Homo sapiens: one gene and its partners. The protein of the gene in region 1 purifies or fractionates together with the protein of each later gene. This does not show direct contact. Each region holds a gene or a part of one and is shown in the gene's direction. Other genes may lie near its edges. The genes, in order: RBM18, TMOD2, RIOX2 and CNRIP1.

Region 1 (7,177 bases):
TTGTATTTTTTAGTAGAGACGGGGTTTCACCTTGTTAGCCAGGTTGGTCTCGATCTCCTGACCTCGTGATCCACCCACCTCGGCCTCCCAAAGTGCTAGGATTACAGGCGTGAGCCACCGCACCCGGCCTAATGATGGATATTATTTTTAAAGCAAATGAGTAGCACAAAGGCAAATCATTTCTCGCGATGGAATTTTTAACAGTAAGGGATACTAGAAGTTAGTGATCAGTGTATGAAGTCTATAAAACCAGATTTGATGAAAAAAGGGAATATTTTTCTTCTTTACTAGTATCAATAGCTACTATTAATTGAGGTCAAGTTTGGACTGTTTGCTTTAACCATACTATTTCATTTAATTCTCTCAATAATGCCACAAAGAACGTATAATAATCCCCATTTTACAGATGCTGAAACTGAGGTTCAGAGAGATTAAGTCACTGTCCAAGGACATGGAGCTAATAGCCAAGCTCTATTTTAGCAGAACTGTTCACAGAGGTTTGGCTCAGAGTGAAGTTTCTATATCTAGGTTTTTCCCTAATAAAACCAATGCCTAACTCATACTTATAACCAAATATGGCTGTAGAATAATGAGTAGATTTTATTTTAGTCTACAGGGTCTCAATCTGGCTGCTCCATTTAAGACAGGTTTCCTGGTATTCCTGTTGCAGGTCATAATACCAACTCACAAAGCAACAGGAAATCAAAATGGGTTAGAAATAAACAACCTTTGACAGAAAACGCAGCACCCAAAAGCAGACCCAGTACACGTGAACCGGAAGACAACTCTATAAATAAACCACATCGCTGAAATGCTTAAGGCGTAGATTTTAATTGCACAGAAGTCAAGAAATTTCAAAGTGGAAGTTCAATAAAAGCAGTCCTTTAGGTCCTTTACCTTAAGGGTATACAAATTAACATTCAGTTCAGCACAGATAAAGAATTAAAGTTGAAGAAAAATTTGTTGAGATCCCAAGTATGAGCCAACAAAATTAACCTATACATAGAAGCAATGTGGGGAAGTGTCTGAGCTTTGGACGCAGTCTGGAACTGGAATCTCAATTCCCCCACTTACTAGCTGTGTGACCTTGGGGAGGTCATTTAGCCTCTCTGAGCTACAGCTTCCACATCATCATCATAGTGATATTAATGAGACTTTAAAAGATAACAATAATGACAATACCTAACATTTATATAACAATGACTACGTGACAGAAACTATTCTAAGTGGTTTATGCACATGAACTCATTTCAGCCTCATGATAACCCTGAAGTAAGTACTATGATTATTCCCACTTTACAGATAAGAAAACAGAAGCAAAAATCTGCCCAAGATTTGAATTCAGTCAATCTAGCTCTAGAGTCTATGTTATTAACTGCTATACAATGCATATAGAACACTCAGCATGGCTGGGAACAGTGATGGGTGCCTATAGTCCCAGTTACTTGGGATGCTAAGGAAGGAGGATCACTTCAGGCCAGGAGTCCAAGGCCAGCCTTGGCAATATAGTGAGACCTAGTCACTTAACAAAACACATACACACAGTACAATGCCTGGCATCCAGTAGGTACACAATAAATTGTAGCTATTATAATAGCATCCCAACTATTAAATTTTTTTTTTTTTTTTTTTGAGACAGAGTCTCACTCTGTTGCCCAGGCTGGAGAGCAGTGGCACGTTCTCAGCTCACTGCAACCTATGCCTTCCAGGTTCAGGGGATTCTCCTGCCTCAGCCTCCTGAGTAGGTGGGACTACAGGCACCCACCACCACACCCAGTTAACTTTTATATATTTTAAGTAGAGATGGGGTTTCACCATGTTGGCCAGGCTGGTCTCAAACTCCTTACCTCAGGTGATCTGCCCGCCTCGGCCTCCCAAAGTGCTGGGATTACCGGCGTGAGCCACTGCGCCGGCCTGAATTTTTTTTCTTTTTTTTTTTTTTTGAGACGGAGTCTCACTCTGTCGCCCAGGCTGGAGTGCAGTGGCGCAATCTTGGCTCACTGCAACCTCCGCCTCCAGGGTTCAAGCCATTCTCCTAACTCAACCTCCCAAATAGCTGGGATTACAGGCGTGCGCCACCACACCCAGCTAATTTTTGTATTTTTAGTAGACGGGGTTTCACCGTGTTAGCCAGGATGGTCTCGACCCCCTGACCTCGTGATCCGCCCGCCTGGGCCTCCCAATGTGCTGAGATTACAGACTGAAATATTTTTTTAAACTACTTGAAGCACACATTCTTTTTCCAAAGTTGAGGGTCTCAAACGATTTCCCTGTTCTTCACAGAAGGTTCATTTTAATTTTGGCTAGATGACCAACCCAAAATCCTGGCTTATCTACTGTCCCAGCAACTCTTTTCAATGCAGCTGTATACTAGCTTATAACATAAGCACTTCTATGAGTGTGCATATACGCAGGCTCTTGCATATAAAATACTTTCACATGTACCATCTTAACTGGTTCTCATAACTAAAGAGTGATAATCACCACCCGTATTTTGCAAAATAAGAAAAGTGATCTTTCACTTCTCCAGGGCTCCCCCTGCTCCAGGGTCTTCAAACATGCCATTGAATCTCCTTGATGATCTTCCCTCACCTCTTTAACTGTTTGTCTCCGTTTTTATTTCAGATTTCAGCTTAACCATCACTTCCTCAGAGGACGGCTTCCTTGGCCATCTCCTACAGCCCAACTAGGTCAAGTGTCCTGTAGTCTGCTTTCATAGCACCCTTTACTTCATCATAGCACTTAATTCTTAACAATACAAGCTAACATTTGTGTAATTATTTGATTGTCTAATTCCCTCCATATGACTCTAAGTACTACAAGGACTAATCTATGATTTTCTTGTTCACTGCTGTATCCCCAGTACCTGGTACATTGCCAGAACACAGAAGACACTGTGAATGTGATGAATACATCAGTGAAAGTCCAGAAAGATAAATTCCTTATCCAGGGTAAACCAGAATCGGATGGGAATCTACCCTTACTATTATGGTAGGTTCTGGGCTTCCCAGCGTTGCCTCCACTGTCTCTGGTTTGCCAGATTTTTGCTTAGAGATAGTAGATGATGTTCTTCTCTAAATGCAGTACCAGGTAAAGAAAGGTACTTGTAGTATCTGACTATACACAGAATCATTATGCACCTGGCACGGCCAAAGAAGGAATGAGACACTTTAACAGGTAGAGAAAGGGCTTTTGCCTAAGAGTTAAGAGATCTGGATTCCAGTATGCCTACCTTATCACTCCCTGCCATCTGCCATTTAGATTCATAATCACACGTATTCAAAAAGCATTTGCGGCAGCTCTACCACTGACTTGTGACTTGTACCAAGTGATTTCTCCTACGTAGATTTTGTTTCAACCATAAAATGAAGGGGTCAGATCAGGTTTTCATTCTTTCCAACTATAAAGCTTTCCAAAATGGGGGGAAATGCAACAGTGTGGTTTAAAACAAAATAAAGGCACTAAACTTAGAGAAAACTCCGAGTCTTGGTTCCAGCACTTCCTAGGCACGTGACCTTAAATCGGTCAAACTCTCAGGACTTCCGTCTCATCTGTAAAACGTAAATGACAATACTATTTGTCAGGGTTAAGTAAATGGAGAAGGGCTACTGAAATGACAACTGTTTTGCCACTGGGTGGCACAGAGTGGTGGTTAAAAGTCCAGGCTTAGGAGTCGGATAGCCCTAGGTCTGAATTTAAGCGCCCTCACTTTCTGACCGCGTGACCCTGGTAAAATTACCTATGTGAGCTTCCGTTTCTTCATTATGGGAGATAATAATATCTACTCCTATGGGATTGTTCTGAAACTCAAACGTTCCCGTCAAGTGTGCGGCTACTCTTTAGTAAGTTCCTCCAGCATCCCCTAAATTCCTAGCTGGTAAAAGGAGCCCCGCCCCCACCCCATGAGACTCGCTCCAATGCCACAGGTCCCGCCCTCAGCCTTAAAGGTCAAGCTGGACTCGAACGGGTCGGGGACGGTAGTCTGGTCCCCTGAGGTCCCCCAGAGGTCCCTGAGTAAGGGTCTCTGGCACCCAGACCACACGCGCCCCTCGAGGCCCTGTCAAGGACACTCACCAGCTATCGCCCAGGTTACTAAGGAAAGACTCGTGCGACGGCGGCGACCGCAGCTGCGCGGACGTCGTGACGTCACGAAGCCAGGAGGCGGCGCAGGCTTAACGCGTCACGGGCGGCCTGGCAGCTGGCGGCATTGAGGCGGACGCGTCTAGAGGTCCGTCTGACCGCGGCGTCGGGACCTGGTTTCCGGGCATGAGCTGAGAGCACCACGCCGAGGCCACGAGGTGAGTTCGGCCGCGACATGTCCCTGCACCTCAGCGATGGGCCCGCTAAGAGGTCTTACAGGAGGCCGCCCTCGCAGGACTGCATCTCAGGCCCCGCCCCGGATTGTCCTGTCGCTGGCCCGGAAATAACAATCCGAGTAATGACCCTTCGCCTGTAGGAATTCGCAGCCAGAAATCGGGAAGCCAGGGTTCCAGGCATGACCCCACCGCTTGCTGTTAGGATCAGGTGTCTCTTCTTCTCTGGATTGCACTTTCCCCAGATGACTATTTCTGGCTTCCAGAGTTATTGCAGCTCAGCTGGAAAGACAAATGTAACCGCGTTTTGTGAACTCTGGTAGTCTAAAGGATTGTTGCTATTGCAAACGCAAAGCATTTTGATAGTCCCGTGCCGTCTTGATCTTTTATTACCCTTTACCTTTCCTCAAAAAGCCATATTCTGAGCTGTCACCAAAATTGTCTTATTTAAGACTCACAACGACCTCGTGAGACGACAAATTGTACCCATTCTAGGAAGGAAAAAGAAACTAAGTCTTCGAGTGGAGAAGCGGCTTGCTTCATTTAGTAAATATTAAGCACCAACCGTGAGACAGGCAGTGTACTTAAGTGCTAGAAATAGAACCGTGATCAAGATTGGCAAGGTCCTGTGCTGTGGGAGCTTACGTTCTAGTGAAGGAAATAGAAGAGGAAACATTAAGTAATACATTGAATTAGCATTTAGTAGGAGGAAAAAGATGGAAAAGTGGCTATGATATAGAATAACAAGGAACTCTGTTTAGGAAAGCTTTTCTATCGAGAGGATGCTTAAAGAAAGGTCATGTGACTTGCTAAAGGTGCAGTTACTAGGTGCAAAAGTCAGGATTTGAACCCAGACCCGCATAGCCTGCACTCTTACCAGTAAAACATGGTACCTTTTCGTGGTAATAAATATTAATAGCTATTGGTATTATTCCTGATTTTAGACATGAGAAAATCAGAATGTCCTATCATTCAAGTCCCAAATGTCATCTCCTTTAGAGAGGCCTTCCCTCCACTCAATCTATAGTCGTCGAGTCCCTGTCACATCACCCTGCTTAATTGTGTTTGTGGCATGTATCACTAATTATATCTTCTTTATTTATTTTGCTTTTGTTTTGTCCTGCTCCCCTTCCAAATACAAGCATCCAGAGGATAGGGACCTTGCTTGTTCACTGCTCTGACTCCAGTAACTGGATAAGTCCTAGATAATAGAAGCAGTGAATTTATTTTTTGAATGAATGATTTGTTTAAAAAGTAGGGGGAAAGGAAAGCAGAGGGAAGACAAAAATGTGTCTCCCCTGGGATTAAATTTATGTCTGTTTCACCTTTCTCCCAGGAGGTAAGAACAAGAGCTGTGGCTTTTTCATTTGTCTATTTCAGTACATAGCCCAGAGTTTAACAGTTCCTAGTTGCTTGACTTACATTGCTGAACAGATTAAAGATGTGAATGGGAAAGGAAGAAAAATACCCTCATGTGCAGGGTATTCAATAAACAATTACCTAGGGACTGCTGTGCTAGACTTTACAGGGTGTGCTGAGATGATTAAGAGGTAATGGCAGTTGTTGTGACTGCCTCCATGGTTCCTGTAGTGCTGACCTCTGAGGTACTTCTGGGTATAGGATATGTGTTCTCTAGCAGGGACTTCTGAACTCTGACACAGCCTGCTGTCCTCCCAGCCCCTAAAGCTTTATTTCACATCTGTCGTCTCATTTTTGGTCCTCGAAGCCTTAAGTTATAAACAGGGCAAAATTTATTAAAGATGGGTAAACTGAAGCTCAGAAAGAAATAACTTCCAGTGGAAATGCCACAGTTTGTGCTGGGCATGGTGGCTCACACCTGTAATCCCAGCACTTTGAGAGGCCGACGTGGATGGATCACTTGGGGTCAGGAGTTGGAGACCAGCCTGGCCAACATAGTGAAACCCTGCCTCTACAAGAAAATACAAAAATTAGACAGGCTTAGTGGCATGCACCTGTAATCCCAGCTACTCGGGAGGCTGAGGCATGAGAATTGCTTGAACCCGGGAAGTGGAAGTTGTAGTGAGCCGAGATCGTGCCACCGCCCATGAGTCTGGGCAACAGAGCGAGAGTCTGTCTCAAAAACAAAAAAAAAGAGAAAGAAAGAAATGCCACAATTTGAAACAATGTCTTCTGACACCAAGGTTTCTGCTCTTTCTACTGCTGTCTCCATCATAATCATAATCCTCTTTTCTCCTTGGCTGTGAGATGAGACATTTCAGGAACTAAGACTAGTAATAATTTAAGCTAACATTAATTGAATGCTTCCTAGGTGCCATGCACGGTTCTAAATGCTCTAGGTGTATTAACTCAGTGAATCTGCACTGTAATTTCATGAGGCATTATCCCCATTTTACAGATGAGGGAACTGAGGCCAACAGCTGTTAAGTAACTTGCACAGGGCTACATAGCTAGCAAATGGTGGAACTTGAATAACTAAGGAGGAAATTAGTCTCTTCTTCCTGGTCTGTCCCAAAAGAGTAAGCATGATAATAGCTAGTATTTATTGATTACTTACTGTTGTTAGATACAGTATTTAGTGATTTTTTTACTGTCTTTAATCTTCACAACAACTCTATAAAATAAGCACTATTATCTCTCTAGATAATGAGGAAACTGAGGCCTAGAAAGTTCAGGTAGTTCATCAAGTCACACAACCTGCTTTCAAACCCAGTTCTGTCTACGCACAGATTTCTTATATTGCCTCTTCTCTTTGCTATATTGCCTCTTCTCTTTGCTATATTGCCTCTTCCATGAGGAAAAGGGATGGAGTGCTGCTCTTCCCTACCCATCCCTTTTAATGCCATTAAGACTCTTCCTGGTGGTTTCCAAGGCTTATTTTGGGT
Region 2 (7,719 bases), on another chromosome or scaffold:
CAGGCATGGTGGCTCATGCCCGTAATCCCAACACTTCGAGAAGCCAAGGCAGGCAGATCACTTGAGGTCAGGTGTTCGTGACCAGCCTAGCCAACATGGTGAAACCCTGTCTCTACTAAAAAAAAAAAAAAAAAAAAAAAAATACGAAAATTAGCCGGGCTTGGTGGCACACGCCTGTAGTCCCAGCTACTTGGGAGGCTTAGACATGAGAATTGCTTGAACCCGGGAGGCAGAGGTTGCAGTGAGCCGAGATCACGCCATTGCACTCCAGCCTGGGTAACAGAGTAAGACTCTGTCTCAAAACCAACAACAACAACAACAACAACAAAAACTGTAATGCCAGCACTTTGGGAGGCTGAGGCAGGCGGATCACTTGAGGTCAGGAGTTTGAGACTAGCCTGACCAACATGGAGAAACCCCATCTCTACTAAAAATACAAAATTAGCCAGGCGTGGTGGCGCATGCCTGTAATCCCAGCTACCTGGGAGGCTAAGGCAGGAGAATCGCTTGAACCCAGGGGGTGGAGGCTGTGGTGAGCCGAGATCACGCCATTGCACTCCAGCCTGGGCAACAAGAGCAAATCTCTGTCTCAAAATAATAATAATAATTTTAGAAAACAGACCTTAATATAATCAAATATTCTGTGTTCACATTTTCCCTAATTGTCTCATTAATGTGAATTTTTAACAGCTGCTTTCTCAAATTAAGATCACACATTACATTTTGTTATTTGTCTCTTGAATTTCTGTGTATCTATAAGCTTTCTCTCCTTTTATTTTTCTTGCAATTTATTTATTGAAGAATCAGTTGTTTGTCATGTAGAGCTTCCTATATTTTGGATTTTGCTGATTGCATCACTGTGGTATCATTTAACATGATCATGATTACATAGTAATTAGCTTTTAGATGTTTGCTGTCAATTATACTACACATACGATTTAATTCATAATTCATCAACATAGTCACTGCTCCTTTAGTCTTTATCATCCACCATATCCTTTGAAGCATCTTTGACACAAATTATCTCAGTTAGTCTTTCTAATAACCCCATGTGGTAAGTATTATTATCCTCAGTTTAAGAGATGAAGAAGGCCGGGCCCGGTGGCTCACGCCTGTGATCCCAGCACTTTGGGAGGCCGAGGCAGGTGGATCACAAGGTCAGGAGATCGACACCATCCTGGTCAACATGGTGAAACCCCGTCTCTACTAAAATACAAAGAATTAGGCGGGTGTAGTGGCAGCACCTGTAGTCCCAGCTACTCAGGAGGCTGAGGCAGGGGAATCGCTTGAACCCAGAGGTTGCAGTGAGCCAAGATCGCACCACTGCACTCCAGCCTGGTGACAGAACAAGACTCCGTCTCAAAAAAAAAAAAAAAAAAAAAAAAAAAGATGAAGAAAATGAGGCTTAAGGGAGGTTACAGAAACTTGGCCATAGTCATTGTGCCAGTAAATATCTGGGTTCAAACTCTCTGATGTTAAAACCCATGTTGTTATCTGTTATATGATAATATCCCATCACATTGCCTGTGGTTTGTGGTGGTTGTTTTTAATCAACTCTAGGAAGCAGTCTTTCAGTCCATCCAAAGAATGTACTTTCACATTTCATCTTTAACACTTAGGATGCTTTCAGCTTCAAGTAACAGAAAACTCCATCTCAAATTGACTCAACAATAAGGTTATTTATTATCTCATATAACAAGAAATCCAGAAGAAGGGCAGCACTGGGGCTGGTTGATGACTGACTCAACAACAATATGGCCGACCCAGATTCATCGTATCTCTTTACAATGGCCAGAACTGGGTCACATGTCCACTCCTAAACTCTTACAGGCCAGTTAAGAGGATTCTATTCCTCTTGTCTATGATAGATTTGAGAGTGTACCTCTCAGAGGCTAATAGGGTCACCTTTCCTAATGTGTAAACACCCATATAGGCTTCTATAAAGAAGAAGAGGGTGGACTGAATGTTTAATAGACAACCAACAGTGTCTACTACCTGTTCCTAATGAGGTGTGCTACATATTCCACTGTGAATAATTAAAATACTTCATTATAACTGCCACGTTGAACTTTTTTCCTTTCTGCCATTTGACAATTACAGTCAATATATCAGCTTCCTCATTTACAGGAAGAAATGGCTACACAAAATGATATGTAAGGTCCCTTCCAGCTCCAGGAGTTCTGTTTCAATTTTACATTTTCATCTTCTAAAAAGCAAGTAGAAAAGTTAAACTTACAAGATATGGTCCAGAAATGATCATGGGTTTCAACTGATAAGTCATAGGCATATTGACATCCTTTCTTCCTTAAGATAAGACATAGGCAATAGATTTAAAGAGCTAAACAGACTGGAACTGGTAATATCTTTCCATTAAGTTTTAACATTAGGTTAAATGTTCTACTTCCCTCACTCATCCTTTAACACCTTCCAGCTTCCAACACTCATCATACAGACAGAGACTGATCAGAAGTTTCTTTTCACAACTCACTTTATTTTGGTGTCAGCATCCTCCTGGAGCATGGCTCTGGGGCTGTAGGATAGCTCTTGTATCTCTGCTTCGACTGCCGAACATGACTTTAACTTAAATCATTCCCCTGTCTGCTTCCTTTCATGGCTAGTTTCTGAAGGAATACTCTATTCGTTTTATCACATGCAGCCATTTTCCTCGTGCAGAACCACGGGAAACCAAAGAGAAATACTGTACACTACTGAGCACCTTTGCTACTCTTTCTTCCAATATGAATGAAATTGCTTTATTATTTTCAGCATATGCCTACTATCAGCTTTCTCTGGGAAAACTGCTGGCTCGATCCGTAAGCAGCCCTGTTCTTATTTAACAGAAGGCTATGACTGTAACAAATGTACAACATAAAAAAGTCAAAGGCATCCTGTCGGTTACACAGGACATTCGGAATAACAAATGTACAGGAAAACTTGGGAACATGACTTAAAGTAATTTGGTCACACCCCCATTTCATTTAACTCTTTCTGGCTCAGATTTGTCATTCTGACAGGAGGCCCAAGATATAGTCCATTACCACAATTGATCATAGAAACAACACTGGTCTCTCAGTCAGCAGCCACTGCGTGCCAGTGTTCATCATGCTAGTTCCCAGAGTTTTAGAGGATTAACTTTACTTTCTGGTTCAACCCATCTGCTGGGGAAGGTATGGCCCTATTTTGCAATGTGCAAAAGGGAGACAGTGCTGGGGGTGCCCACAGTGGAAGGAGAGAAGACAGGCTTACTGAACACCCCTATGACCTTGAATAAGTCACATCACCTCTCTGTGCCTCTTATTAACTATCATTGGGGAAAAATACCTTCACTCTGCCTGTCTCACAAGGGTTCTTGTAAAAATCAAATGAGAACACAAATAGGAAAGTATTTTCATAAATGCAAACCAGTGTTATCATTTTCAGATGTGGAATTTCCTCTGCAGCACGTTTTTTTGGCCACACGATTACTGCACACCTCGTGCCAGACAGACTATAAAGCTGTTTCACCTCTTTTCACATTTTGCCTAAAATTTCATATAGAGATTACACCAGCCATGCTGCATCCATCCCTTTGGTTCATTTTCCTCCACTACATCTGTGAATGCAAATCCCACCATCATGTGAAACACTGCATAGCAGCAACTTGCAAAACTCAACGAACCTTAGACTGCCAAGATAAGTCCCATAAGCAAAGGTTATGCTCAAAATATGCTGCAAAAGTTCAAGAAGGAGAGAGATATCACATCTAATTAGAAAAGGCCTCTGGAAGTTAAATCTAGATGCCATGTATTTTCATAATGTTGGTCTTTGTCCTATGTCACCCCACTCTGCTGTCATGCTTCAGAAACTTGACTTTATTTTCTCTATCTTTGGAGCTCTCAAGAACCTGGCAGACAGAACATCTCAGGGTATATTCAGGGATGAAGTGAACGGGCTCAACGACTAACAAACCCAGTGGATTTTAACATTTACCCAGCCCAACGAGGTCCAACTATCTTTAGGTTAGCACGACATATAGGACTTTCCCGGCCCAAGAACTCCCTCGGAAACCCCAAGGAAGGAACTTTCACTGAGTATGCACTAAGTGCCAGATCCTAAGTGCTATGGGTCGCTTAATCCTCACAACACTTTTTCAAGCTTGAAGCCTGTTTTACAGATGAGGACGCGAAGGCTCAGACAGGCTAAGTTGTCCGGTCTCACCTCAGTGAAGCCGCCACTGCGCTTGGGCTCTCCAGCCCCTCACGCCATCACCCTAGAGCCTTGCTAACTTCCACCTCGCTTACCTCCTTCCCTCCCTAGGCTGCCAACCCAACTACTCTCTCCTCCCACGCCCACGCCCAGCCAGGAAAACCTGGGGCGGGCGGGGTCTGTACCTGAGACCGCTCTCAACGCGGCTTCCGTGTCAGGATGCTCGCTCACAGGAATGCTCATCACAGGCTTGAAAGCCTTTGCCATCCACGCTCTCCGGAGCCCCGAGCGTCTCCAAAGAGCCTGCCCAGGCTTCTCCCCGACCCAGGTGCTTCCTCCCCTGCAGAGCTGTGGCGGGGTTCAGACCCCGATTCCGGGAGAGGACACCTGTCGGGGAAGGGCGGGGCTGGGGGACTGCGGGGCCGCGGCGAGGCTCAGCCGGGAACTACGCTTCCCAGCCTGCTCCGCTGCAGCCGCGCGCCCCGGCGCCGCGCCCGGCCGGGAGCCGCCTGTTGATCGCCGCGCTCGCCCCGGCCACGGCGCCGCCCCTGTTCTCCCGGCCCCGCTCCACCGGGGCTGACGGACTGACGGCCAGCACAGCCGGCTCCGGGATGAGCGCACGGACGGGTGAGCGCCCCGGGGGGCGGGTGGGGCCTGTTCTGGACAGCCGGTGTCTGCAGCCCCCGGGCCCGCAGCGCGGTGGCCGCCGTGCCCTCCCTGCCCGCGGGAGGATGCTCCGCGACATGGGCGGTCGGCCGGGCGGGCGTGCAGAGCCGGGCCGCCTCTCGCCTCTCGCCTCCCGGCCCGGTCGGCTGCGCCGGGAGACCAGGCGCTGCGCCCGGGCGGGAGGCGCCCGCCGGGGTGTGAGTCCCGCGCCCCGCACTGCGGTGCCGCAGCCTCTGCAGCCCGCTGGGCCGCAGCGGGGAGGGCGCGGTCTCCTGTCCTCCCGGGCTGCGGGGCTGTGTTCTTCCACTCCGGGCTTTGTTCCCCCACTTTTCCCCTTCCTGTGCATGTTTGGTGAGCTCCTGGAGCGGTATGCATCTCCCTGCCTCGTTCAGCAGGCGATGGGGAGGGGTGGACTGGCCGGCGTCTTTCCTGAGATCGCTGGAGCTGTCACTCGCAGGGCGTTTCAGCCTCCCAGTAAGCGGCCTCGTGCGGATCCTCGAGAACCTTATTATTATTGTTATTACTTTTCTGGTTAAAGTAATTGTAGTATGTGCTCCCTTGAGGCTTCCTAAATGTTCCCTGTTGACCTGCGGAAATGAAGGTGGATTTTTAAAACAGTAATAAAAGGCTTCTAATGGGAATTTTTAGAGTATTCAGAGGTAGGAAGGTGATGCCGTCACAATGCAAATTAGCAGTGAAGGAGGCCGTGCTTACTGCAGCTTCGTCTGTGCCCATTACATATCTGAATCACGAGGCATTTAGGACGGGAATGAAAAGAAGATCGGGGGAGGTGTTTTAAAAACCAGGTTCTCCTCTTAGCTTGACCATTCAGGAGCTGAGGGACCTGGGCAAGTCCCTCCACCTCTCTGGGCCTCTGCATGTAAAGGGGCGTTTGGGCTAAATGATTTGTAAACCTCTGTTCTTCCAAGATTCTCCCCTCTCAGGGAACTGAAAAGATGAGAGTGTTTCTGTTTAACAGCACTACAAAAAGCCTAATTGTGACAACAAGCGCCTCTACCCTAGTGAGGAGGAAAGATTTTTCAGAGCTTCAGCAATCTGATTTTTTTTTAAAGATAAAACTGATTTTCTCGATCGACTCTCTTCAGTCTAACCCAATAAATACGCATTGCAATCATTTTAATTTTTGTAAGGTACTGTACATTGGTGGGCAACAAAATGATGGGGTTTGTTTTTGTCTTTAATTTGCTGAAGGTGAAGTGATGGGATCAGCAGATAAAGGATTAGTGGCTCCCTAGGGCTGGGCACGAGTGGTCAAATGTGGTCAGCATGGAGGTCGGGGAGGAAGCCCCAGCAAGAAGTAACCAGAATGTGTATACACAGAAAAGAGAAGTTGCGTACTGATGGATCATTGTTTGAAAAAGAAATATGCAATAGAAGGAATGAGAGAATCAGGAACTCGGCGCTCTGCAAACCTAACATAACAGTTGAATAAGGCAAGGACTTACCAACTGGTCCAAAACCTTTGAGTGAAAGGTGGTTGGGGAATAGGATTTTCATATTATTTCAAAGTATCTCACCACAGTTTACTCTGGGAAAATTTGTCCTTACAATGGAGAAATTAGGAGGTCACCACTGGAACCAAATGACCAAGTTTAGCAGCATCTACTGCGAGTCTCCCGTTGTGAAGCAATAAGGAGGCATAATTTCACCTCTGTAGTGTTCCTGCAAAAAGACTTGGCGATGGGGCAGAGCAAATGGGAGCAACTATTGTAGGTTAAAATACTCAAGTGATACAATAGTGAATTGGGATGTGTGAACTTTGAATCCTAGATGCAAAAAAAAAAGCTATAAAAGACAATTTGGAGATAGTTGGGGATGTTTGAATATGGATTGCATGTTAGATGATATTATGGAATTGGTGTTAATTTTCTTAGGTGCAATAATAGTTCATTCTTGTGGTTACCTAGACCAGACAATCCTTATTCTTTGGAGATGTGGATATTGGAGGTGAAGTGTCATGACATCTGCAACTTTCAGCTGTGTCAGAAAAAAAAAAAAAAGGATAGGGGTAGCAGAACAAGTTCAGGAACGTAGCAAATGTGGCAGAATGATGACGGTTGGTGAATCAAGAAGAAAACAAATGTTTATTGTACTATTCTTTTAACTTTTCTATAGATTTGAACTTTAAGAAATGGGGAAGTCAATAAAATAAATAAGCGAATAAAGAGAAAGTGTTGTAGAAGACGGGGGTGGTTCGTGACAAACAGCTGCAGTGAATCTGTGGGGAATTTCTTGGCTTCACCTTCCCAAAATTGAAATCACCTATTGGAGGTGTGAGTGGGGGGGACGGGGGGTTGGTGTTCCCATTTTTGGTTTATCTTGGCTACTCTCAATCATTTATGCTTAAGTACCCCATCCTCTAGCTTCAACTTCAAAGTATTAGTAATTCTCCATACCTAAGAAATTCTAGCCCTACCCAAGAACCATCCCGAAAGTGCTGTCCCTTTCCTCTCTGTGTCCGAGATCTGTGTCAGTGTGTAAGGAAGTTTGAGAACATAGGCAGTGGTTCATTTTATTTTGGGTTAGGGTAGTGTTGGGGGAAAAATGATTTAGCTTTGTGATAGGATAGAAGTTTTGGGGTTTCCTCTCATTCCCTTGTGTGTAAATCATATACAACCAAATGTTTTCCTTATAGACTTTAAGTGGTTCAAAGAGGTTCATAGAAGGCATGTGCAGAAGAGACTTCCTGTTACCAGACCACGAAAACAGAATCAACTCTTACAACACTTAATCTCTTACACGGAATCCCTTGCTGCAAAGATATTTTTGCTTTACCTGGATTATATGTGTTTATGTATACATGAAAATACTAATTTAAAGTATACATATTTACTTGCATGAATGTCT
Region 3 (7,026 bases), on another chromosome or scaffold:
TGTGGAATTGCCTGTGTTCAACAGGAGAACACAAAGACCTAGCTGTGAGTGCCAGGCCAGCTTTTTGGCTGCTGTTCTTTCTCAGGGTTGAGTGAAAAGAGTATTTTTTACTAACTTTAATAAAACTCTTAATTATGACCAAGAGAGAACCACTGAGATAGATAATCTATAAGGTCCCTTCCAACACTGATTCTATATACATTTTTATCATAGTCTTTGGAGGAAGCTTAGAATTTGTTTTTGATTGTATCTATTCAAAATAGCAAATGTTTTACAAGCACATGGTTTAATCTTTAGCAGAACAGTTTGCTTATGCACCAGCTTATGGCCCAGACTACTTCAGTGTTTTCCTTATCTTAGGCATTATACTCAATAAAGTGATGATCCCTCACGACTCCTTCCCCACGCAGATGACCCTGTAAGGCTAGTCTGTTTTTATTGGGTATTGTTCCACTAAGTTAAATCCAATTTGGAAAAAAAAAATTTTCTGTGGACTTTATTAGATGGCTTTTATAGGATACTATTCTTGACTTACATAGACTGAATAATTGACCAGGGTCACACACCTAATAATTGGTGGAGTAGTGCAATTTTGAACTCAGGTAGTACTTCCAGAGTCCATATGTTGAGCGAGAAGCTTGTAGAGGACAGAACCTGGAGGAGTGAGTGTTCTGTGCAGAAAGCACCACAGCCTTATGTGCTATGATAGCCACTGTACTTCGATGGTATTATTTTTGTCTATTTATTGTACTTATAAACTTACATTATTTATCTATGTCTGTCTTCACTGTAAGAATGAGCTGCATAATGATGTGAACTATAATATCAGTACAATGTTGGGGTAAGCAAATTCTTCAGTTGGAGTGTATGCCATGTTTGGATTCACCTGTAAATTGTTAGTAAATGTGTTTCCTATGTGTATGTATAAGCAAGTTTGAATCTGCCTGTTTCCTTTTTTGAAGGTCGGCTTTCTCTCTTTGGGGTTTTCTAGGTGGAAAGTTACCGAGGCTGGACAGTGTAGTGAGACTGCAGTTTAAAGACCACATTGTCCTCACAGTACTGCCGGATCAAGATCAATCTGTGAGTATCCAAGAGGAGGAGATTTCCTGTCTTCTCAGGGTGTTTTTCATCAGAGGCCTCAGGTTATTAGATTAACCACTGGTCTCTGCCCTTCTTTAGGAATCCACCTGCATTCAGTTTAATGCCATTTCTTCAGGTCAGATGATGACCAAATCTCACAGTTCCAATTCCATATTTTCTTGCCCTCATCCTCACAGAACCTTCCTTCATCCCCTTTATGTGGTGATTAATGTCTGGTCTTTGCTTCTCATCCTACTTCGGGCCTTACTGTTCTTGCTTGGACAGCCACAGACCTCATTCCTGAGTTTCTCAGCCCCAGTCCTCCACACTGTGCAGATCTATATTTCTATGTGGTTTTGTGGATATTGTTGCATCTCCTTAAACTCTATCCTGTAGATTATGGAGAACAAAGTATATATTCTGTAATTTTGCTTCCTAGCCCAGTGATTCCCCAAACTGGCTAACTGATCATGGAGTCAATTGGAAAGCTTTTTAAAATTATAAATTCCTGGGTTTCATCTGGTCTTGGAGCCTTTGGATTTATGTTTTGATAGAGCTCCCTGTACAGTCCTAAAGACCTTGGAACGATCTCATACCATATGGCTCCACCTCATTCCTCCTAATCAGCTCTCTAAGGAGCTATCCCATGAATGATCAAGGGGGATGAGAGGGGCACTCAACATGTCTCGATAACCAGATTGTTCCAGCCGTCAGGGCCAGAGTTGGAATATATATATGAATATACATGAATAGATATATATATATATATATATACATCCTCAAAAGTACACATTCCTACATCCCTGTCTAAAAAAAAAATAGTGATTCTGATAACCAGTCAGTTTGAGACATTGTACGCTAGGCTAAGATTTTTTTGCCCTTATCTAAGAGGTGACAAAGAATGACTAAAGGCTCTGGAAGAGACAATAAACTGCACTGTGTAACATGGGGAGTGAAGGGAGATAGGGACCATTTGGGAGGGTAGTGTAATTGAAATGGAGTTTTTTATCGATCACACAGCTGGTATTTCTCAGGAGTTAATGACTTCATGATTATAAATTGTCAGTTTATACCTAGAAATGTCAGATTTTTTTATTCAAAAAAGATAGTGCAGGTATGATTAAAAAAACTGAGGATTTCATTGATAAGTTGATACATAAATCACTGCTTTTTCATTAAATCCTGAAGATGCTCTTCCAGGTAGCACTCCAGCTGTTTTAACAACTTAGAATGCCCATTAATTGCCACATACAAATAGTAACCTGTGGTGACTAATGAAGTATAGACATTGTGTGGATGCACACACCCGTCACTTTTTGCCAAAAGGATTCTTTACAGTATTCAATAAATTTCACTTGAGCACCAAGGCTTTTGAAATTTTTTTTGGTGTTGACCTATTGGAAAACCTTCCTAGTACTGACACCTTCAGTGTTGTGTTGTTGATGGCCTAATGCATTTATTTTTTCCCCAAAGGATGAAGCTCAAGAAAAGATGGTGTACATCTATCATTCCTTAAAGAATAGTAGAGAGACACACATGATGGGAAATGAGGAGGAAACAGAGGTTTGTTTCAACTGAAAACAAATGCCTATCCTGTGACTTGGGTGGTGGTTGGGAAGAATTGATTATTTTTGATTTACAGGTAATATGCTTTTTATGGCTGCACTGTGGACTTAACCATTTTGCACTACTCACAGAGCTCCTGCATGGGGATGATTAAGTCAGACATTTCTGTGATACATGCACACCAGTTTTAAGACATACTAGCTGGGACCTGTAGCCTTATAGGAATGGTATAATGTAAAACATTTCAAATTACTAATATCACTTACTACATAAATTAGGATGCCTTTTATATAGAAGTTGGCATCTTTTATGTTATCTAATTGTAGTGTGTCTAAAATACTCATGAGGGGTATCAAAAATAATGATGTATGGAGAATAAATTTACAGGAAAATGCTACTTCAATGACATAAGTAGTATACATATATTTTGACAAATAAATTTATCCTTTCAGTTTCATGGACTTCGCTTCCCTTTGTCACATTTGGATGCACTGAAGCAAATTTGGAATAGTCCAGCTATTTCTGTCAAGGACCTGAAACTTACTACAGATGAGGAAAAGGAAAGCCTGGTATTATCCCTCTGGACAGAATGTTTAATTCAAGTAGTCTAGTGCCTTTGCAGAATCAAATGCCTACTATTTTATATGCATATATTAAAAGAAAAGCAAAGACCTGAGCCGAGGAGAGGATGAATTCAAGTTTCCTTACCTGCGTATCTACTAACAAACATGAGACCTCCCTGTTACAGGTGGTCAGTTGGCCAAATGTACTAACGGGCACATGAAAGAAAGAACAGCAAATTACCAAGTGTCTCAGAAAATGACAAAACCATATTTTGACAAGTTTATTTAATCCAGTGTGGTAGAAAAGGCACAATTCCAATGTATCATTTAGAATTGAATGTCATTAACCTGGCTTTGTTCTTTGGAAGAAACAACTTCTTTAAAGAGCTTCTTTGGCTCTAGAAAAATTTCAAACAATTAAAATAAGAAAAAATTTTAAACTGGTTTTTTATAATGAAAATATACATACCTTTGTGTATAGACAAGCCCATGCCCATTAAAATAAAGTTATCCTGTAACATAAATTTTATTAAATAATACTTCCCCACAGATGAGAGGCACGCAACACCTATGGACAAAAGGGAGTTACAGAGGCTGCTTAAAAGATGGAGAAAAGCCTGAGATTGAAGGAGGAAAAAAACCCAGTATTTAAAGTCTATAAAAAATACTCAAAATAGTGGGTCTTCGAGTTTAAAATAGTCATTGTTATTTTACATTCTAAAGTGCATGTAGGTTGATATTTTTTAAAATATCATTGGAGAATTTAATCTTTCTTTATAAAAATAGAGCATTTTTCTGCTTTCTGGCAAAAGTTGGGGATAAAAGGAAAAAAAGTTGTCAAAATGTAATTTTCAGTCCAATTCACCAGGAAAACATGCTTGTGAATTGTGCAGTAAAAGGTGGTAATGACTACTGGAAGCTAAGTCAAAGGTGATTTCCTACCTGATTTTACTTACTTAAATAAAAGTTACTTACAATGGGAGTGAAAAACTGAGGTTTCTGTTATTTAGTAGAGAAATCAACTCCACGTTTACTTAAAGAGATGGTAAGGTCAAGGTTCAAATGCTACTGTGTTTTAATTTGGATATTTGAAATTTCTCTTGAGGCAAAAAAAAAAAAAAATTGATGCCTCTCCTTAAATCTAGGATGAAGTGTCAACATGGAGACAGGTAACCACTGTTATAGAGTCTTGTCACCTAAAGGGATGTCTTGGTTAACACGTAACAGTGCAAGTTTGGCCATAGGTTATTTATTTGTACTTTTTTAGTTTGAAGGACTGAGGAAACAATAGCTACAGAAAATACTTCTTGTGCCTTATTCCTAACAAAGCTGAGGTCCCTGCCTGGGGTTAGTTACAAGTATAAATACTTAACGAGGTGCGTTCATTATAAAAGCCTCAGTATAGAAACCTTAAAGTTTATCTAGGAAAGTTTAGTATATTTTCAGGTGTTGCTAAAAAATTACTCATCTGTTTGCAAAAGTATGACTTGACCTATAGAAATCTGTTTCTTTATGCTTTGTACTCATACAAGCATCTAGGTAGGATATTAATAAATAATACAGGATAATAGCATCACCAGTGTCCAATAACGGGCCATCAGGAACAGGATTCACGTTTGGTGGATATGAGAGAAAATAAACACTTCAGGAAACTTGCTCACCACAGCTGGAGATCAGGAATAGAACCTTTCCAAGATATCATAATATTTTCTTTATAGGAACACTGAGTAATGGCAAGAATATTTTGAGCTTTTCCATGGTTAAGAGCGATAGTCTCAGAGGCTGGAGAAAATGTTCATTCTGCTCAGTGATCCAGGAGTGTGAGGACAGTAGCTTCCTTTCCACGTCCACAAGACAATGACAGATGTGTTTCCTTCTTTGCTCTTTCTAGGGATCTTTCTAGGGATGTTGATTCTCTCACAATATTTCAATGTCCCATTTCTGTGTTTCTTCTCCCTCCAGGGGCTGATTTACAATTACATGAGTCTTGTCACAATAATTTCCTCCTAAAATAGAAATTCCAAAAGAAAAGATTATTTGTTCAGGCAGGTGCTTAGCAATTTCACAATTTTCACAAGCTTCTGTTCAGCTCACCATTTCGGTGGATGAATGTGTCATTTACAAAGAAGTCTGAAATGGGAAGCTGAGTTTGAACAGGCTTAGCCATTATTCACCTCAAATTGGACCTTATTATGACTCAAATTGAAATACTAAAAGGTATAATACATGATTGTATAAGTGGCGTGCCTTAATGTGATTCTTTAGAACAAAGTGCTCTTGAGAGAACTCTGGCTGAATGTCAGGTACTGTGTTTTTGTTTCTACACCAACAAAACTGTGACTAACCCAATTAAAGCAACAGCCATGAATAATATTGGCCCTGACCTTGCTGAATTCAAAAACAAGGTTAATTGATACCTACCATAAATTCTACCTGAGGGTTTTTAAGGACCATGGCAATTCCTGGCAAAAAGCTAGAGATGTTTCTAAGAAACAGATGACATTCATTTCATGGTTTATGGTGCTTGAAATTTAGAACTGTTCTGAGTTCACGTAGCAAATGAAAGTTTTACAACTGTACTAATGAACAAAAACCCTAAGCTTTGTTGTTTGGCTTTTTCTGCTAATTGTTTTGTTTGTAAAACTGCCTATCTTAATTTTCTTCAAGCATAATTTTAAATGACTTAACATTTCTCTTATACATAAGGATGTCCTTTACCCAAAATGAGGAGATTTGGAACTGAAACTAATATCCAGGGACACAACATTGGGTATCATCAAAGGCCCACCTTTAACATCAAGGACAAGTTGATCACTGAGATAAGAGCTGATAGTTCCATTTTTATTCAGTCTCCACTTCTGCCTGAATTGCCCATGTTCAGTCCATAGAGCTACTTTAGCTCCAGGTGTGTCCCGGCCACCAATCACATCAAGACATGTATCACTGGCCTAAAAGGGTTAAGAAATGATTAATTGGCAGTAGTATGTTTGCTAAAGTAAGTTGAATTAGGTCCCTTTTATCTTAGGTAAACAAGTCATAGACATGAAGTGTGTGTGTGTCTTATCTAAAAAAATACTATATAGTATAATTTCAGTAAGCCTTTTTTAATGTCTTCTTTACGGCTGTGGGTAGGAGATGGTACAGAAATAAACCAACTGAAATAGAGGTACTTGTTTTTAATAGGATGTCTACATCTGACAACAGATGTTCAATAAAGATTTGGTGAATTGGAATTAAATGTTAAATCCCTGTTTGCTTAAAACGTATTATGTTGAGCTTGGTTTTCTTATGAAAACATTGCATGATGGGCTAAAGATATCCAGACAATAATTACTTTTAAAAGTTTTTCATTTTTGAAGCATGAGAAAAAGTAGATAATCCATTGGTGATACAATAAAACACAGTTTGAATGTTTTTAAAGTAGTGTTCTATTCCCAATGCATTAAACATAACGGAAGGGTCATAGAAAAGAACCCTAAATTTTATTTTCTAAGCTTCTTCCAATAACAGCTTTCTTCTTCTACTGCTTCTTTGTATACTTTGAAAATGAAAGGTTTCAACATATTTAGAATCACAGAGATGGCTGATTTTATCTGGGCCATCAAGTAAGGAACATCTTACAAAAGCACATTGTCCAACTTAGATCTGGTGACTTATACCATTGGTTGTAAAAAATCACTTAGGTATATCCATAATATGTGATAACCTTTGTGTTTACTTAAAAATTGAAACTGGATTTTCTTGTTCAAAAAATTAAGTTAATTTTATATAAATGTTTTAGTAATATATGGCAGTATTTTTATAATCAACACCTGTT
Region 4 (7,026 bases), on another chromosome or scaffold:
CCTGTAGATGCTGAAAAGACACCATAAGCAGAAGCAGATGGTTCTGGAAGAGACAGAACCTACATTGCCATTTTCCCAGTTATAGTCTACTTCAGAACTGGTTTAGATAATTGGCTGTGAAAAGTTTCTGATTCCAAGTAGGCCACAATATTCTGGTTAAGAGAAAGCTGATTTGAATGACACTTTGCTACTTAAAGCTAAATGGAGGAGCCAAAAAAAGTGTCATGGGAAAAATACACCTCTTATATAATATCCTATAATACACCTATTTTATATAATATATACCTATTATATATACACCTATATAATATATATATACCTATATTATATATACCTATTATATATAATATCTGGTAATCCTATCAGATATCATATATAATAAAATGATATACCCTGGTAATATGGCCCCAAGTAAGAAAAAACAAATTGGTAGAAAGGATAGAGTCAAGACATAGATTTAACTATATGTGCAAACATAATAAATAGGTGATGAAGCAAGCTTGCTAAAGCACAGGAAAAGGAAGCTTCACCTAAACTGCTGCTTGCAAACTGGGCAGCCTTTTCCCTCTGCAAGAACAACCTTCAACTGTCTGCCCTCTAGCTTTATAGGAAGTATCACAAGGGTTCTCAAATATCGGTATGCGTGAGAATCTCTTTGGGAGTTTGTTTAAAATTCCAGTCCTAGGTTCCCTCTCCAGTGATCTTAGCTCAGTAGAGCTAGGGTGGGGACAGAGAAACTCTTAGCAAGCATACCAGATCCTGAAGAGGATGGTGTGGGAATGCACTTTGAGAAATGCCTATCTAACCTTTGGAAACTTAAAGTGTTCCCAGTCCCCATTATACTTTTTAAAACCACAATAGTCACATAAGGAAATAATCTAGCAGCTCATCCCTTTGCATCCAATGTTTGAACTATTTTTAGAAAGTGCTCTTGTTCTGTCAAAGAACCTTCAACACAGAAAAATACAAAAATGAGGGAAATGTATAATTCCTGCAAGAGAGAAGTGTTGTTAACATGTCAATAAATGTTCTTAGAAAGTTGTTTCTATGTCTTTGAATATATATGTGTGAGCCTGGGCAACATAGTGGGACCCTGTCTCTAAAAAAATTTTTTTTAGTTAACCGGGTGTGGTGATACCACACCTGTAGTGCCAGCAACTTGGGAGGCTGAGGCAGGAGGATCACTTGGATCCAGGAGGTTGAGGCTGCAGTGAGCTATGATCACACCACTGCACTCCAGCCTCGGTGACAAGAGTAAGACCCTGTCATTAAATATATATATTTGAGTATCATTCCATATATATACTTTTTTCTACTTGTATACATCTTTCAATGTCAAATATATGCCCATATATATATATGGAATGTCATTTTAAAGTCTGTATGGGTATTGTATTTTATGAATGTATCAAATTATCCTCAGTCACTTATTGCTGATTATTTCTGGTTTTCGGTATTATAAACAAAACCACATTACAAATCACTGAGTACTGTACAATTGTCTAATGTTTTCTTGATTTCTAGAAGAAATGTGCACGTTAAGGCATTTTATAAGACTGCCTCACTGACCTCCAGAAAAGCTAGGCAATTTACACGCCTATCATCTGTATTTAAGTATCCATTTCTCTCTGCACTAGGTATAGTTTGTCATGTTTACATATTTTTAATCTGACTGAAATACTTCAATTTTTACTTACTGTTAATTTGAAATCCTGACATATTCATTTACTATTTGTATTTGCTTCATGGATTATATGTTCATAGTTTTCACCCATTTTTCTGCTTAAGTGTATCTTATTGATTTTTTGAAAAATCTTTATAAATTTAAAATCGTCATTTTTATCACATCTTGAGTGTTCATTTAATATTTTAATTTTTATTTTGTTTACAATATAAAATATAAATTTTGTAGTCAAACATGTTAGCCTTTTCCTTTATTATTTTGCAGTTAAGATCCAGCTTAGAAAGTCTTCCTTGACTCCCAGATTAATTAATTATATATAGACATATACACAGTGGCATTTGTGTATTTTCATCTGAACTCTTATGGTCTCATTTGTTAAATTTTAGATGAATTACAGATTTAGATATTATTTCAGTTCTTACTTTTATATTGGAAAGTATTTGCCCACAGTGTCCTAATACAATTATTTAAATAATCTATGCTTCTCCAAAGGTCAGTTTCATAGAAATTTCTTATATTGCAAAAATTTTATCTCCTCCTATACTCCCTAATCTATTCCATTGATCTATCTATTGTTACACCAATACTGCATTGTTTTAGATACACTGTTTTTATAATATGTATTCATATACTTTGTAACTGACCACCTTACTGAACTTGCTTACTAAAATTTTTCAGCAAATCATCTTGGGTTTTTCATATAGATGGTCAGAATCTGAATATAACTGTCTTTTTTTTTCCTGGTCATATTGCATTGTCTAATGTTTCTAGAATAATGTTGACTGCTGCTAGCAGTCAACTACAGCTAGTAGCAGTAGTTGGAGATAATTTATCTTATTTGATATATTTGATGAATTACATAAAGTAATACACTTCCAAATACTAAACCTTATTTTTTACAATAAGCCCTACTTAAACATGTATTATTAATATATTGCTAAATTCTATATGCTCTTTTATTTAGAATTTTTAGATTTTTAAAATTTGCTTGCTTTATCAGCAAATATTTGAGGATTTCCTGTATATCAGGGACTCAGGGGGAAGAGTGGTGAACAAAATAGATAACCCGGGTTTCATAGAATTTCTGATCTTGAGGGTGGAAACATACTTTATACATGATTATCAATGATAAGGTAAATAATTGCTAATATGAAAAGTATAGCAAAAAAGTAGTGCTGTTAGAGTATATACCAAGGGTCTTATCCTAGTCCAAGATTTGCGGGATGGTTTTCTTGAGGAAAAAATGAAGGATGAATAAGAGTTGAGGAAAGAAAGAGCATTTGAGGAAAGAGTAGTTGTAAAAGTCAAGAGCTGGAGACAGCGTATGTATTCTAATGGATGAGAAGCCCAACATGGTGGGCATAGAGTGAGGCAAAGACAGTATAAGATAAAGCCAGAGAGGTAAGTAGGGGTTGGATGATATAGAACCTTTTTGCCACTGGATTTATCCTAATGACTATAGGAAATCATTGAAGTTTTTGAAATCAGCTTTGAGATATGATTAACATAAAATGCACCAACTTTACAGTTACATAGGTTTTGACAAGTAGATGCTACTATATAATCACCACCCCAATAAAGATAACAGAACACTTCTATTACCCTGAAAATTATTTGCAGTTAATTCCTCCCAACCTAACCTATCCTGAGCTTGCCATCTCAATATGTTAGTTTTAACTATGTAAGAATTTCATGTAAATGGAACAGTGCTGTTTGACTTCTTTCACTTAGTATAATGTTGAGATTCACCTATGTTGCACATATCAGTAGTTGGTTCATTTTATTTCTGGGTAGCATATTATGTTGTGTGGATATACCATAATTTCTCCCTTTACCAATAAATGGACATCTGGGTTGTTTTCAGCTTTTGCTATTATGAATAAAGCTGCTGTGAACATTTGAGTATAAGTCTCAGTGTGAACATATTTTCATTTCTCTTGAGTAAATACCTAAGAGGACAATTGCTAAATCACATGGTAAGTATGTGTTTATCTGTGTAAGAAATATCCACACTGTTGTACCATTTTGTATATCCACCAGCAGTGTATGAGAATTCTAGTTGCTTTACATACTCAATGTATGTCTTTTTAATTTGGAAATTCCAAAGACATAGAAGACCCAAAACAATCTTGTTTGATCTATATTGTAGTCCTTAAAACAGGTAGCATAAATCTTCTAGCTTTGTTTATTCTAAGTTCTTTTGCTTAATCTAGGTCCTTTGTGTTTTATATAGATTTTAGAATGAGCTTGTCAATTCCTCCAAAAATTGGGATATAGAGTTTCCATTAAACCTATAGGTCAACTTAAAGATATTTGACATCTTAATATAGAGTTTTCTATACCATGAACATGAAATATCTCTTAGGTCATCTTTAATTTTCTCCACAATATATTACAGTATTTCCTCTACAGACTTTATACATATTTTGTTAAATTTATTATTTCATATTTTTGAATAATGTAAATGGAATCTTTGCTGGTATATGGAAATAAAATCGATTTTTTTTGTATATTGATATTGAATCCTGAGACTTAGCTAATCTCACTAATCCTAATAGCTGTTTTTGGAGGATCCCTAGGATTTTCTAAATATGCTATCATGTCATCTGTAAATAGTTTCTCTTTTCTTTCCAATCTGTATTCATTTTATTTATGGCCTAATTGCAATGGCTAGGACCTTCGCAGTATGCTGCTAAATAGAAATGGTGAGAGTGGACATTCTTGTCCCTCAGTCTGAGAGAGAAAGCATTCTGTTTTTCAATACAAAGTATAGTAGCTGTAAGGTTCTTTATTGTAAATCTTTTTATCAGGTTAAAGGAGTTCTCTTCTATTCCTGGTTTACTGAATGTTTTTTTAATCATGAACGTATTATAACATGTTTTCAAATAGTTTTTCTGTATCTTTTGAAATGATCATAAGGTGTTTTATTCTGTTTATGGTAGATTACCTTGCTTTTTCAAAGTTAAAATAACCTTGAATTCCCAGGTTAAATACCACTGGTCATGGTTTATTCTCGGTATGTAAAACTGGATTTGATTCATTAATATTTTGTTAAGGATTTTTGACATCTATGTTCCGGGGGGGATATTTGTCTATGGTTTGCTTTTCTTATAATGCCTTTGTCTAGTTTTGGGTATCAGAGTAATGCTGGCTACATAAAATGATTCGGAAAGTGTTCATTCTTCTATTTTCTGGAAGAGTTTATATAGAAATGATATTTTTCTTAATGTCAGAATTCACCAATGAAGGCATAGATTATACTTTATTTGAAGATTTTTTATTACAAATTCAATTTCGTTAATAGATATCGGGCTATTCAGGTTTTATTTCCTGAGTTTTTGTAATTTATCTTAGAAGTCATTTATTTCAATTAAATTTTCAACTTTATTCCCATAAAGTTGTTTATAATCTCCGCCATTCTTCAGTGTCTTAGGATCTCTAATAATGTCTACTCTTTTACTCTTTGATCCTTTTCTTTTTTTTTTTTTTTTTTTTTTTCCCCGGAGATGGAGTCTCACTCTGTCTCTCAGGCTGGAGTGCAGTGGTGCAATCTCGGTTTACTGAAACTTCTGCCTCCCAGATTCAGGCAATTCTCCTGCCTCGGCCTCCCAAGTAGCTGGGATTACAGGTGCGCACCACCATACCCAGCTAATTTTTTGTATTTTTAGTAGAGATGGGCTTTTGCCATGTTGGCCAGGCTGGTCTCGAACTCCTGGCCTCACAAGATCCGCCCACCTTGTCCTCTCAAAGGGCTCAGATTACAGGTATGAGCTGCCGCGCCCGACCTACTCTTTCACTCTTGTTATTCAAAATTTTTATTTTTATACCCTCTGATTAGTCTAGCTAGAGATTTCAGTTTTATTGGCCTTTTCAAAATCCTAGCTTTTTTTTTCACATGCTTCACTCTGTTTTTCTACTTCATTGTTTTCTAATCCTATATTTATTCCCTTCCCTTGTTTGCTTTGAAATATTTTAACTTAAGTATAATACATATACAGTAAAATGATCCCTTCATAGAGTTCTTTCTGCTTGTCAGTAGTTTGGTTATGATGCATCTTAACTGGTTTTTCCCCCCTTGGGGATCACTGAATTTCTTGAATCTAGAGGTTAATGTTTTCACCAAAATTGGAGTATTATTAACCATTGTTTTGTTAAATACTTTTTTAATACTTCATTCTCTCCTTTCTTTGTAGGACCCCAACTAAACATATGTTGAAAAGCTTGGTATTATCCCATAAGTCTTTGAGGACATGTTCAATTTTCTTTCTTTTTTTAATGGATCTTCAGATTAGATCATTTCTACTGATGTATCCTTAAGTTCACTGATTCTTCTATTTCTAGTCTTGTGCTTATCTTCTAAATTCTATAACATTTTTTAGCTCTAGAATTTTCATTTGTCTTTTTTATAGTTTCAGTTTCTCAAGATTCCTTATGTTGGCTAATTGAGACCATGTTTTCCTTAATTTATCTGAGCACATTTGTAATTGCTGGTTTGAAGTAGTTAATAAATCCAACACCTGGCTCTAGTTAGAGTAAATTATTACAGCCTGACTTTTTTTTTTTTTAATATGGGTCACACTTTCATGTTTCATTACATGTCTCGTAATTTTTGGCCACAAACTTAACATTGTGGATAGTTTATTACCAACTCTAGTTTCTGCTTTATTCTTCTGGGTATTACTGGTTTTTTGTATTCTAGCTGGCAGTAAACATTCCTGTACTCAAACTTCAAATTCTATCTTCCAGCAGTATGCAGCAGCTGATCTCTTTGCTCAGTTTTTATAACTTCCAGTTGCTGCTTTTCTAGCCTGGTCTCCTTTTGTGCCCATGGAGCTTAGCAGTCAGCCAAGGAACTGGAGAGCTTATACTGAGATTTTTGGATATACCCACCCTGAGGTTCCCCTATTTCTCCAGCTGCTCTATCAATCCAAAACTGTTTTGCTTTATTTGAGATGGAGTTTCACTTTTGTTGCCCAGGCTGGAATGCAGTGGTGCGATCTCAGCTCACTGCAGCCTCCACCTCCCAGGTTCAAGCGATTCTCCTGCCTCAGCCGCCAGAGTAGCTGGGGCTACAGGCGCGTGCCACCACACCTGGCTAATTTTTGTATTTTTATTAGAGACAGGGTTTCACCATGTTGGCCACGCTGGTCTCGAACTCCTGACCTCAAGTGATCCACCTGCCTCGGCCTCCCAAAGTGCTGGGATTACAGGAGTGAGCCACCGTGCCTGGCCAATCCAAAACTCTTTACTCTGATACCTACTTCTGAGGTTAGGGAATGTACTCAAAATACATGCATGCATACATACATACATACATACATACATACGTAAATATAAAGAAG

What was found.
Region 2: the proteins of RBM18 (region 1) and TMOD2 purify together in Homo sapiens (affinity purification with mass spectrometry; 3 studies listed by BioGRID and IntAct, with this or other methods). This does not show direct contact.
Region 3: the proteins of RBM18 (region 1) and RIOX2 purify together in Homo sapiens (affinity purification with mass spectrometry; 3 studies listed by BioGRID and IntAct, with this or other methods). This does not show direct contact.
Region 4: the proteins of RBM18 (region 1) and CNRIP1 purify together in Homo sapiens (affinity purification with mass spectrometry; 3 studies listed by BioGRID and IntAct, with this or other methods). This does not show direct contact.

Annotation. Positions count from the first base shown.
Region 1 is NC_000009.12:122,261,836-122,269,012, reverse strand, and holds the start of RBM18 (probable RNA-binding protein 18), read left to right. Parts: upstream 1-4,172; 5' UTR 4,173-4,298; intron 4,299-7,177. Other genes in the region: MRRF (ribosome-recycling factor, mitochondrial), read right to left, coding at 3,233-3,267.
Region 2 is NC_000015.10:51,746,901-51,754,619, forward strand, and holds the start of TMOD2 (tropomodulin-2), read left to right. Parts: upstream 1-4,696; 5' UTR 4,697-4,812; intron 4,813-7,719. UniProt on the Homo sapiens protein: Blocks the elongation and depolymerization of the actin filaments at the pointed end. The Tmod/TM complex contributes to the formation of the short actin protofilament, which in turn defines the geometry of the membrane skeleton.
Region 3 is NC_000003.12:97,941,415-97,948,440, reverse strand, and holds the end of RIOX2 (ribosomal oxygenase 2), read left to right. Parts: intron 1-991; coding exon 992-1,080; intron 1,081-2,553; coding exon 2,554-2,643; intron 2,644-3,098; coding exon 3,099-3,257; 3' UTR 3,258-5,126; coding exon of another isoform or gene 5,127-5,215; 3' UTR 5,216-5,997; coding exon of another isoform or gene 5,998-6,157; 3' UTR 6,158-6,623; downstream 6,624-7,026. Other genes in the region: CRYBG3 (very large A-kinase anchor protein), read right to left, coding at 5,127-5,215, 5,998-6,157. UniProt on the Homo sapiens protein: Oxygenase that can act as both a histone lysine demethylase and a ribosomal histidine hydroxylase. Is involved in the demethylation of trimethylated 'Lys-9' on histone H3 (H3K9me3), leading to an increase in ribosomal RNA expression.
Region 4 is NC_000002.12:68,309,936-68,316,961, reverse strand, and holds part of CNRIP1 (CB1 cannabinoid receptor-interacting protein 1), read left to right. Parts: intron 1-7,026.